Homo sapiens: one gene and its partners. The protein of the gene in region 2 interacts with the protein of the main gene of each other region in a biochemical or structural test. Each region holds a gene or a part of one and is shown on either strand. Other genes may lie near its edges.

Region 1 (3,745 bases), on a different chromosome or scaffold from region 2:
ATTATATTCTATATAAGCACATATGTCAAGATACTATTTTTTTCTAGACACTCTGAAATCAGAAAATATCAGAGAAATAGGGCATTTCAGTAAATAATATATAAAATTGATCAAATTTCTTGGAATGGGTGATAAATTTTATTTTTTCCATGACACAGCCCTCAGGAGATCCTGAAAACACGTGCCCCTGTGATGAGATTTTTAATCAAAATCATAATTCAAGATCATGTAAAAGCTAAACCCACTGTACTGACTTGGGTCACCCTCAAGTAGAACTTATATATTCTCTCCCGTTTTAACATTCTAAAACAAATTAATGTTAATCAATCCACCTTAATTTGTCAAGTTCAAGTCCGTCTTGCCAAAACTAATTCAGGTACATGGTAAAATTTACCAGATTTTTAAAGATAAAATAATGAATTGCTTTTCCTATTTTTGCCTGTTTTATCTATAAATCTCTTACATTATAATTTAATAGCTCATCCTGCCGCAAATAGAAAGCCTATAAAACCTATCCACAATAGCTATGTCCACAGGGATCTAGTAAAAAAAAAAAATCGTAGTTCTTAATTCAAGGAAGCTTATTTAATAAGTTTCATTACCACCAATACTTCAAAGACACCAATAACCAACACGTCATTTGTTCCTATTGCATAATTTAACAGGTTATTAACTTCTGGTATAATCCAAAAGCATAATTAGTAAACTATCATTAAAACATGATATTGCTTTTTTAAAAAATCAGAAATATTAACACCTTTCACTGCGTCAGTCAAATCAAAATTTCAAAATTTTTGTTCAACTGACTTTCCAAATCTAAATTCTTACTATTCTAAACGAGTATGGAGACAAAACACACACTCCATACTACATCTAAAAACTTCCTAGCCATCAGATTTTAATTTTAGCATAAACTGCCAAGAAAAACCTTTTGACCGAAACCTACATTCCGTACACATTACTGTATGTCAATCAACAGAAGGTGAGTTATGATCATTAGAAAGTTACATAATTTACTACAAAGATCGTTTAAAGCAAACTTCATTAAACGTAGGTTATAACAATTTACATGCTTCAAAGTTCAACGTGCAACCTTAAAGTATCAGAAACCATGAACAAAACTAGGCTTTTCTTTTAAAGTGGTCACAAGGAAGCAGGAACTGTTTGCGTGTTTAAGAACGCAATGAGCAGCAGAATACCAGCAGCTGAGTCAGGCAGAGGAACGCTGACTACATTCTGACTTCTAAAGGAAAGCGTTCCCTCGCCGATTTCCCAGACCCGGCCGGGAGAGTCCCGCGCGTCGCGACCTCGGAGAGAGGGCGCAGGGGGCAGACGACTCCCCGCCGCGCCCCCTGCACCTCGGGCTCGGCTGGCTGTGGCCCGCGCCAAGGTGCATGCCCAGCCAAGCAGAAGGAGCGGGCACCGCGCAGGCAGCGTTGCTCCGAGGGACAAAGGTTGGGCTCACACCCTCCACGGCCGCAGCTCGCGCGCCTGAGGAAGCCCGCCTGGCTGCCAGGGGTCTCCCGCTGGCCGGAGTTTGCGCAGCGTGTGGGGGAAGGGGAGCCCGGCCGCCCGCCCCTCCCCCGCCGCGCTCCCAGGGACCTGTTGATTAAGATCTCTACAGCCCAGCCGCCGCCGATCCGCCTCTTACCTCCACGCCTCGGCTCCGCGGAGCCTCCCGCCCCGGCCGCTCCTACGCACTGCAGAAGCGACAGCCCTCCGGCGGCCCTTGAAATTCCGGATAAAGAATCCAGAAACTCCCGACTCCCCACCTCAGAATCCTTAGTCCCCGCCCCCGCCCCACCGCCTGCCTCCTCCGTCGCCGCCGTCACCGCCGCAGCCGCCAGCAACTCCACTTCTAGACCGCGCGAGACCGGCCCCTGCGGCCGCCGCGAGACCGCGCACGCGCCCCCGGGACTCTGGCGCAGTGGGCGCGCGGATCCGAGTCCCACCCCGCCCGTGAGAGGCTGGCGCGGCTTGCCCAATCCCGAGCCGGAGCGGAGAGAGCGCCCGCTCATTGGTCCTCTCCGCAGCTCCAGCCGGGTGCGCGCAGTCGCGCGCCTCTAAGTCTAAAACGCGGACTGCTCCGGGCTAGCTGGCCCGGTAGAGCCCCTTCGGGATTTGGCCGGCGGGCTTTGTGGGGACGCGAGGCTTCCCTGGGTTTCTACATCCCTTGGCTCTTGTCTCTGGATGACGTATCCTGAAGAAAATCTGATTCCTCTTGAAGAGATTCCTCATGTCCTGTCAAGTTAGTCACCCAATCTAACATTTGTTTTTTTTAAAAAATGACATAAACACCTGGATGTGTGCAGTGTCCCGCAGAAGACTGCATAAAGCCAGCAGCTGCACTGATTTCTGAAAACCAGAAAGCAAGGATAGCAAGGACTAGAACTATTTCCCAGAAGTCTCCCGAAGGGACAGAGTTACGCAGATCAGCCCGTGCTCCGGGCATGGCTGGCGCCCTCGGGACCTGGATGTGCCACCCTTGGAATGGGGCAGGACTCAGGCGGGTGCGGGCGGAAGTCAGAGCAGATTGGAGGACGTTCTAAGGAGAAACACCAGCAATGTGTCTCGACACTTGCAATAAAAGCCCTCGGATGGTCTCTGTCTTGACAGTACCTTCCGAGCAAGCCCATTCCACATTTGAACACTTGCAAGGTTTGTTAATCGACCTCTCCTTCTATGAGGCCAAACTATGCCTGTGACTCCAGCCCGGGGGCACAGTTTCCCCCAGGGGCACAGTCCTCCCTCAAAGCCTTCGTATATGCCATTTCCATTTCTCTCGGTTTTCCTCATTTTGTCCCACGGTGTTTTTCCATCTCGCAATGTCCTCAGGTCCTGATTTTCAAGCTCTTTCACATTCTTCCCCATTACGCTCCTCTGGACAGCCTATGGGTTGTGGTGTCCCTCACTAAGGACACTGTGATGGCCTGAACGAAGCAAACCGTTGTTCCTGGTGGTGAAGATCTTTGGGGATGCCTACCCTTCCCAGATTTGTTATCCTTCTCAAATCTGATCAGCATTCTGTCCAAGTGTTTAATAAGACAGAGCGGAGGACAGAACTCTGCTGCATGCCACTAAAGACCTTAATGCTCCTGCCATCAAAAATTTCTCAGTAGGCTTCGAATACAGGTGGACGACACAACCGAACTGTCTTCTTGGCCCATATTCCTCCATAAAGATGCCATGAGAACTGGTGAAATGCCTAACTGAAATCCAGATAAAGTCTCCAGGATTCCTAGAAACTACTAGCCATACCCCAAAAGAAAAAACGGTTACTGTGTGTGACTTACTTCCTTTTCTAAGTTCTTTTGTTTTTGTTTTTGTTTGAGACGGAGTTTCGCTCTTTTGCCCAGGCTGGAGTAAAGTGGCGCAATCTCGGCTCACTGCAACCTCCGCTCCCCGGGTTCAAGCGATACTCCTCCCTCAGCCTCCCCAGTATCTGGGATTACAGGTGCCAGCCACCACGCCCGGCTAATTTTTGTATTGTTAGTAGAGACGGGGTTTCGCCACATTGGCCAAGCTGGTCTTGAACACCTGACCTCAGGTGATCCACCTTTCTCAGCCTTCCAAAGTGCTAGGATTACAGGCGTGAGCAACCGTGCCCCGCCTCTAAGTTCTTAAATATATAACATAAATAATAATTCAAGAAGCTTCCTCCAGCTCGTCAATGAATTCTTCTTTCTCTAGCTTATAATTTCTCATCCTTGGCACTATTGACATTTGGGCTGGATAATTCTTGTGG
Region 2 (3,745 bases):
GCATCCCCCTCATCACCCCCTACCCCACAACACACACACACACATACACACATCTGCCACTTTTGGTGATCTGATCCCCACAGTGGGGCTTCCTGGATCCCTACCTACCTTGTCTGGGGTGCGAAGGCTCCCCACCACCTGCCATGTCCGGGACACCCCTCGCAAGCACCTGCCATGTCTGGGACTCCGGCTTTTTTTTTTGAGACCGAGTCTTGCTCTGTTGCCCAGGCTGGAGTGCAGTGTCACAATCTCGGCTCACTGCAACCTCCGCCTTCTGGGCTCAAGCAATTCCCCCTGCCTCAGCCTCCCAAGTAGCTGGGATTACAGGTGTGTGCCACCCCGCCTGGCTAATTTTTTGTATTTTTAGTAGAGACAGGGTTTCACCATGTTGGCCGTGCTGGTTTCAAACTCCTGACCTCATGATTTTCCTGCCTCGGCCTCCCAAGGTGTTAGGATTACAGGCGTGAGCCACCGCGCCCGGCCGGGACTCCTGCTTTCATCACATCTACCAAGTCTGAGCTCCTTGCTCCCCCACCCACCTGAGAGGCATATGGAATTCCTGAGCCCACACATCTGACAGCTACAGTATTCCTGCCCACTCCCTCCAGGGTGTCCTAGTCTTCTTGGTCTAAGACTTCAGGTCTCTCCTACTTAGAGCTCTCCAAAGCCACCCTGACCTGCCACCTCTGGGGGGAGGGGGTGTCTAGTCCTCTCTACATGCTATATGTGTGACCCCTAGATAACATCCTTGCTGCCATCTTCCCACATATACCTCCAACTCACCAGGTTGCCATCGGAGCTGGAGCTGGTGGATGAAGGCAAAACAGTGCTATTCTCATTTGCAGAAGTGGTCTGTACTGTGGAGGGTGAAGGCAGAGAATAACTCAGTCTCCATCTTTCTCTCCCATCCCCGCCCATCTGCACCTGCTTTGGGCATTCCCCTTCACCTCCCCCTAGCAGGTCCCAATTCAAACTCTGCCTTTCATTCGCACAGAGATGGTTGGGTGTCTTGCAGGTAAGACCTCTCCCTTGGGTGTTTGCTCCCCAGGACACCCCCCCGACCCAGTCCCGCAGAGCCCAGTAGGGTGTCCAGAAGTCCACCCCTCCCCTACTCACCTCTCGGCCCTGGGCCCTTAAGGATCTGGGCGGGCCTAGCTTTTCCCTGGAGTGTCTGACTCACACCTCCCCACAGGCTCCCAAAACAAATCTAAGACTGAATGGCTGGGGTCTACACCTTCAGCCAACCAGGTCGACCCGGCTCGGCAGGCCTCCTCCCAGCTCCCAGTTCACCCAAAAACACCTGCACTATACCAAGACTCAGGTACGCAGCCCTTACCTCCCCCCAAGTCCTACTTAGGAGCCCCCACTCCAACACACAATTCCACCTCGCTGGGGAACTCAGGTCTCCTAGACCAACTCCCAGTGTCCAAGGAAGAAACTAGAAATCTTAATCCCCCCGAGCCCTAACCCTGTAGACCCCTCCCCAAGGTATTTCTTCCCCGCTCCCCAATTCTTGACCCTCTCTGCGCCCCAGATACCCAGCGCTTCTAAGCCACGTCCCCAGCAGAGATCCAGGAATCCAGACCCCTCCCCCCCAGCGCTCTCAGCTGGTACCTACTTTGCCCCCAGGCTCGGCCCCAGCGGGCCAGCAGGAACGGCAGGCCCAGCGCCAGAAGCAGCCCCAGCCCGGGGTTCGCCATGGGCTGGGTGGCGGGTTGGCAGCGCCGAGGAAGGGGCTTCTCGCGCTCGCCCCTCCTACCGCATCTCCGGCCAGGGGCACCTGCGACGGGGCACCTGGGGACAGGAGAAGGAGAGGCCCAGGCGTTGGGATCGGGGTGGGGACCCCGGCGCAGGCCCACAGGAGAGACAACTGGCGCCAGGGCACCCATGAGTCCCGCCCCGCCCCAGCCGCCAGAGGTCAGCGATTAAAGATTAACTCCCAGGAGCGCGTTCCTGGGCTGGGGAAAGGAAGGGGACGGGACGGGACGGGACGGGACGGGCAGGGTGGACGGGCGAGGGGGCAGGCCTAGCGGTGCGTCCTGCCTTCCTACCTGGCCCGGGCGTCTTTGACCTAGCTCAGGTTCCTGGTCCGTGTCCCTCCCTCGAACCCTCGGTCCGTCGGTCGTTCTGTGGGTCCGACCCCACCGGCTCCGCCCTGTCACGTGACCCGGAAAGTTTAGTCACTCACCTGGGAGAGCGCACTTCCGGCTTGTGCACCTGAGCCTCGCTGAGAGGGCGGAGTCAAGAAGGGGGCGGGGCCGCGCTGTGGGCGCACCTGTAACGGGACCCCAGTCCCTTAATGGGGATGCGGGGAGGGAGACCGCGGAAGCGCGCAGGTGTGAGGGGGACCTTACACCTGCATTGCGAGCATATCTGTGGGAGCGCACAGGTGTGGAGACGCACGGGGTATGTATGTACCCGTGCACTAGGCACTCCTGCCTAGGGCAGACTTGGATGGGGAGCGCTTAATGAGAAAAAATACCTGCCCAGGCGCAATGGCTCACGCCTGTAATCCCAACACTTTGAGAGGCCGAGGCAAGAGGATTGCTTGAGGCCAGGAGTCCGAGACCAGCCTGGGCAACACAGCGAGGCCTCATTCTCTACAAAAAATAAATAAATAAATAAACAAATAAATAAAAAGAAGAAAATAAGCCGGGGGCGGTGGCGTGATCCTGTAATCCCAGCGCTTTGAAAGGCCGAAGTAAGAGAATCACTTGAGGCCAGGAGTTCGAGATCAGCCTGGCCCACAGACGGAGGCCCCATATTTACAAAAAATAAGAAAATTAGCCAGATGTGATGGCACGCACCTGTAGCCCCAGCTACTTGGGAGGCTGAGGTGGGAGGATCGATTGGGCCCAGGAGTGGAGGTAACAGTGAGTGAGCTATGATTGTACCACTGTACTCCAGCCTGGGTGACAAAGTGAGACCCTGTCTCTAAAAAAATTTTAAAAACAAAAAAACAGCTGTATGGTAAACACCTGTGTGGAACCAAACCTGTACAGAAGACAACTGCACAGGTGTTCACATATAAGAACATACAGAAAACAGATGGCCGGGTGCGGCGGCTCACGCCTGTAATCCCAGTACTTTGGGAGGCCTAGGCAGGAGGATCACCTGACGTCAGGAGTTCGAAACCAGACCAGCCTGCCCAACATGGTGAAACCTTGTCTCTACTAAAAATACAAAAATTAGCCGGGTGTGGTGGCAGGTGCCTGTAATCTCAGCTACTCGGGGGGCGCTGAGGCAGGAGAATTGCTTGAACTCAGGAGACAGAGATTGCAGTGAGCCGAGATTGCACCATTGCACTCCACCCTGGGTGACAAGAGTGAAACTCCATCTCATAAAAAAAAAAAAAAATCTGCATTGAATCACAGCTATACGAAATATAGCCAAGGCTGGGCATGGTGGCCCACGCCTGTAATCCTAGCACTTTGGGAGGCCGAGGCAGGTGGATCACGAGGTCACGAGTTCGAGACCAGCCTAGCCAAGATGGTGAAATCCCCGTCTCTACTAAAAAATAATCAAAAATTAGCTAGCGTAGTGGTGGGCGCCTGTAATCCTAGCTACTTGGGAGGCTGAGGCAGGAGAATCGCTTGAACCCTGGAGGCGGAGGTTGCAGTGAGCCGAGATCACGCCACTGCACTCTAGCCTGGGTGACAGAGCAAGACTGTCAAAAAAAGAAAAGAAATATAACCAAATGGATACATACCACCAGGGTGGACAGTATCTCTATAGAACACGCCTG
Region 3 (3,745 bases), on a different chromosome or scaffold from region 2:
TTTCATCATGTTGGCCAGGCTGGTCTGGCACTCCTGACCTCAGGTGATCCACCCGCCTCGGCCTCCCAAAGTGCTGGGGTTACAGGCGTGAGCCACCGCGCCCAGACTCAAATCACATTTTTTAATGATGTTACAAACGAATGTCGATTTTCTCGATGTGATTCTCAGTTACAGAAACTTACAGAACTTTGCTTATCAACCCTAGACAATAAAACTATTCTACCTAGAGGCTCTAGGAAGCTTTCCTTACTCCACTGTACCTCACTCAAATCACTCCTTGATTTTACATACTCCTTAGTAGTCTTACCATCTATGATGCTCCATTACTTTTTTTTTTTGAAATTGATATACTTTCAATTTTCTCCTTTTCTGTGTTTTGGCCTTCTCAATTCTATTTTAAATGTTCTCAGGGCCCAGCCAGTGTCCTGTTTTGTATTCTGCAATGTCTAGAAGTTATTAAAAAGGCATGAAGGCTTTGCAAAAAAACAGCTTGAGGAAGTCATAACCTTTCTAAGCCTCAGTCTTCTCAGAGAATTGGGCTAGATTATCTAAGCTCCTTTTAACTCTTCAACTCAAGAAACGCTTGCTGAAAGTGTTCCCTTGGCTGCCGATCACCTTCAAATTCCAGCTCAAAACCCCCTTTGGAAGGCATTCCCTAACTAATCCCTCCCTACAGACTACCCTGCTCACTGAGCCTTGAGATTTAGAAATTCAGTGAATACCGAAGTAATTATCAGCAGATTGGCATACCGTTGGTCAAGGGGAAAAGCACTTGATGTGAGTAGGTAGCAGGATGGAATGAAAAGAGCATCTAGAGTCAAACTGTAAAGTGCTACTCCAACGTAAGGTGATAGTACTAATTTTACAGATTAAATGCATACCAAAGTTAGTGCTAGAAAGAGCGCCAGCAGGAAGCAAAGCGAACTTTTAAAGGGCTGTTTAGTTCACTGGGCTCTCTCCTTCGCCACTCGATGCGCCCCTTAACCACAGAAAGTGGGAACAACGGGGTGGTCCAGGGCCCTTTACTCACAGCCCAGCAGGCAGGATTCTCCTACACCTTTTGAGCAGCCTCGCATTTCACTCAGTGTGCGCCATCCTTGGATATACCTTGGCCCCTACTCCCGTCCGTGAACACGGGAATGAGATTTACGGAATGAGATTAAATGCTGGACTAGGTCTTCTTCCTGCCCGGGCCAGGGGCGGACACTAGCGCCCCCTGACCCCCGCCACCCCCTCCTCGGCAAGTTTATTACCCACAGTCTCCCGACCGCACCGTCCAGACCCCGGGGCAGCTCAGCCCGTCGCCTCCCCCGGCGCTCCGAGCCTGGCCCGGCCTCTCCCAGGCCCCGGCCCCCCAGGCCCGCCGCTCCGCCCAGCCCGGGCCCCGCGCACCTTGCTCTTCACCTCCATAGTGCCCAGGCAGCCGCTGCCCGCCCCGTGCCGGTGGCTGCGGTTCATGCTGAACGCCGAGCCCCGCGACGGCCTCCTCCGGCCGGGCGGCCCCTCAGGAGCGCGGGGAGCGAGTGCGCGACTGGGGATCTCGGAAAGCGGTTGCGGCCCGGGCGCCTCCTCACAGGCACCTGCAGAGGGGGCGGCCGCAGCTCCGGCGTCCGCGCTGAGCTCCACTCCACCAGCTGCTCACACGGCGGGACCGAGGGTCGGACTGGTGGCGCGGCAGGCGGGGAAGCAGCTCCCTCCCTCCGGGCCCCGGCGGCGACGGCGACAGCGCTGGAGGAGAGGAGGGGGCGGAGCGGAGGCCACAAGCGCCGCAACCTCTCCCTCTGCCGCCTCCCCCGCGAGCCCGCGCGCGCGCACCCGAGCGGACCACAGCCGCGGCGCGTGCGCGCGCTCACCTGCAGCCCCCGAAGATGCCGCAATCCCTCGCGTTCCGCCCACACCCAATAGAAAGCGCGCACCTGCGCCCGCGGCGCCAACCAATCGATACACGCCTCGCGCGGTGCGTGGGCGGGCTGCCTCCTCAAAACCCCGCCTACCACCGCACGATTGGTCCTGCGCTACGAGGGAGGGGCGGGATCACCTGAAGCCATGGCCCTCCGCCCCGCTTCAGGCCGGAGAGCCAGAAGGCGCATGCGCGGGTGCTGGAGTTTCCGCCCCGGGAAGGCACGCGGGGAGGCCGGCCGGAAGCGCGAGCGCACCTGAAGAAGGGCTCGGCTGGGTGGGCCTTTTGCGCACGCGCGAGCGCGCGCCTGGTTGCCCGGCTCCGCCGGGGCTCGCGCCGCTTAGCGCGCGCCAGTCACACGCACGGTCCAGGGGATTGGATGCGCCGCCCGTCCGGTTGCCGAGGCGCTGCGGGGCTATTCGGTTCCAGCCGGGCCCCCTTCCCGCTTCCACTTTGGGATGCTGCAGCCCCCAACGACGCCCCTCCACCGCCCCTTATCGTTGCTTAGGCGTCCCGCTGCAACTCTTGGTTGCAAAATTCAAGTTTTCCCGCCTCTGCAGCGGTTGCTGGGGGAGAAGCTTAGGGCTCTCTTGGCTTCATTTTGTCCGAAGAGACTCTGCACGCCTTAAGTCCGTCAGGTCGAGAGGGAAGGAAAGTGGGCTGAGGCGCGGGAAGGCTCCTTGCAGGCCCAGCCTCCCTGAGGATTTCTAGTCCAGTCTTTCAGGGCTTTTTTTTTTTTTCTTTAAAAGTCTTCCTTTTCCCTCCTCCCGCCATTCCTTGGCCATTCGCTGTTTCTACAAATGACAGCCTCTAGGTTGTGTTCGTTTCCCGGAGTGACCAAGCTGTGTCCCAGAGCAACAAAACGCTGAATCCTCCTCTCTGAACGTCCCAGAGCCCGGCCTCTCTTCACACAGACCCTGTGGGTCATGGGGAGGAGAGGAGAAGACTGAAGCTTTTGGCTGGAGGAGATTCCCAGGTCCCAAGGTCTCCCTGTGGGACCCGGGAATCCAAGAGCTGTTGAAACCTGCAAGCCAGGAAGGGGGCAGGGGAATGGAGGTGGAGGGGAAGGTCCAACCTGAGATTTGGCAAGAAGAGTGGTTAGGGTACCTTCCTCCCCTCATCTCCCTGCCCACCTCGGAGGCCTCCTAACACTTGTACCCCTGTTGCCCAGCACTTGTTACAAGTTACAGGTTTCCCATTTTTGTGTGCATCTGAGTTTTGTGAGTAATCTGCCACCAGCCTAGAATGAAAGCTCCCGAAGGCGCAGGGACGGCTTGTGCTTTGCTGGCATTGAGTGGCACAGAACCCGACTCCCAGCGGGTACTCAGATGGGTCTTTGCTGGGTGCTGCCACTGAGGGTGTCCCTTCTGCAGGCTCTTTGCCCCACTTGGGTTCAAAGGCGAGAAGCTCATTTTTTTCCCTCTGGAGGATTCAGGTAACCAGACGTTTTGTGGGAGGATTTAAGGTTTTTCTGGCCACCTGTGGCAGCACAGGTGGAAAGGACACCAATCCAAGCTGTATAATAAATAAGCAAGCTGCCTCCACCCCCTGTTTGAAAGCACATAGGAGGTGACTCAAGTTCAGCCGGAAATAAAGTGCATGTCAGGGCCTGTAACTCCCCTGTTTGGACTAGCACAGCAGTTCCCAACCTTTTTGTTTTCAAGACCCCTTTACACTATTAAAAATCATGGAGGACCCCAAAGTACTTTGTTTATGTGTAATGTCTTTCAATATTTATCTTAGAATTAAAACGGATGTGTCCAAAACATGGGAGTACACAAGCATGCATTCCAACAGTCATCAGAGTGATGATGTCATCACATGTCTTGTCCCTTCTGGAAAACT

What was found.
Region 1: the proteins of CRB3 (region 2) and PALS1 form a complex in vitro, tested with the Homo sapiens proteins (one study listed by BioGRID).
Region 3: the proteins of CRB3 (region 2) and PARD6B form a complex in vitro, tested with the Homo sapiens proteins (one study listed by BioGRID).

The regions. Positions count from the first base shown.
Region 1 is NC_000014.9:67,239,440-67,243,184, reverse strand, and holds the start of PALS1 (protein PALS1), read right to left. Parts: upstream 1,751-3,745; 5' UTR 1,652-1,750; exon of another isoform or gene 1,603-1,651; intron 1,512-1,602; exon of another isoform or gene 1,200-1,511; intron 1-1,199. UniProt on the Homo sapiens protein: Plays a role in tight junction biogenesis and in the establishment of cell polarity in epithelial cells.
Region 2 is NC_000019.10:6,462,657-6,466,401, reverse strand, and holds the start of CRB3 (protein crumbs homolog 3 isoform a precursor), read right to left. Parts: upstream 2,132-3,745; 5' UTR 2,052-2,131; intron 1,795-2,051; 5' UTR 1,701-1,794; coding exon 1,619-1,700; intron 858-1,618; coding exon 784-857; intron 1-783. UniProt on the Homo sapiens protein: Involved in the establishment of cell polarity in mammalian epithelial cells. Regulates the morphogenesis of tight junctions.
Region 3 is NC_000020.11:50,729,500-50,733,244, reverse strand, and holds the start of PARD6B (partitioning defective 6 homolog beta), read right to left. Parts: upstream 1,666-3,745; 5' UTR 1,459-1,665; coding exon 1,393-1,458; intron 1-1,392. UniProt on the Homo sapiens protein: Adapter protein involved in asymmetrical cell division and cell polarization processes. Probably involved in formation of epithelial tight junctions.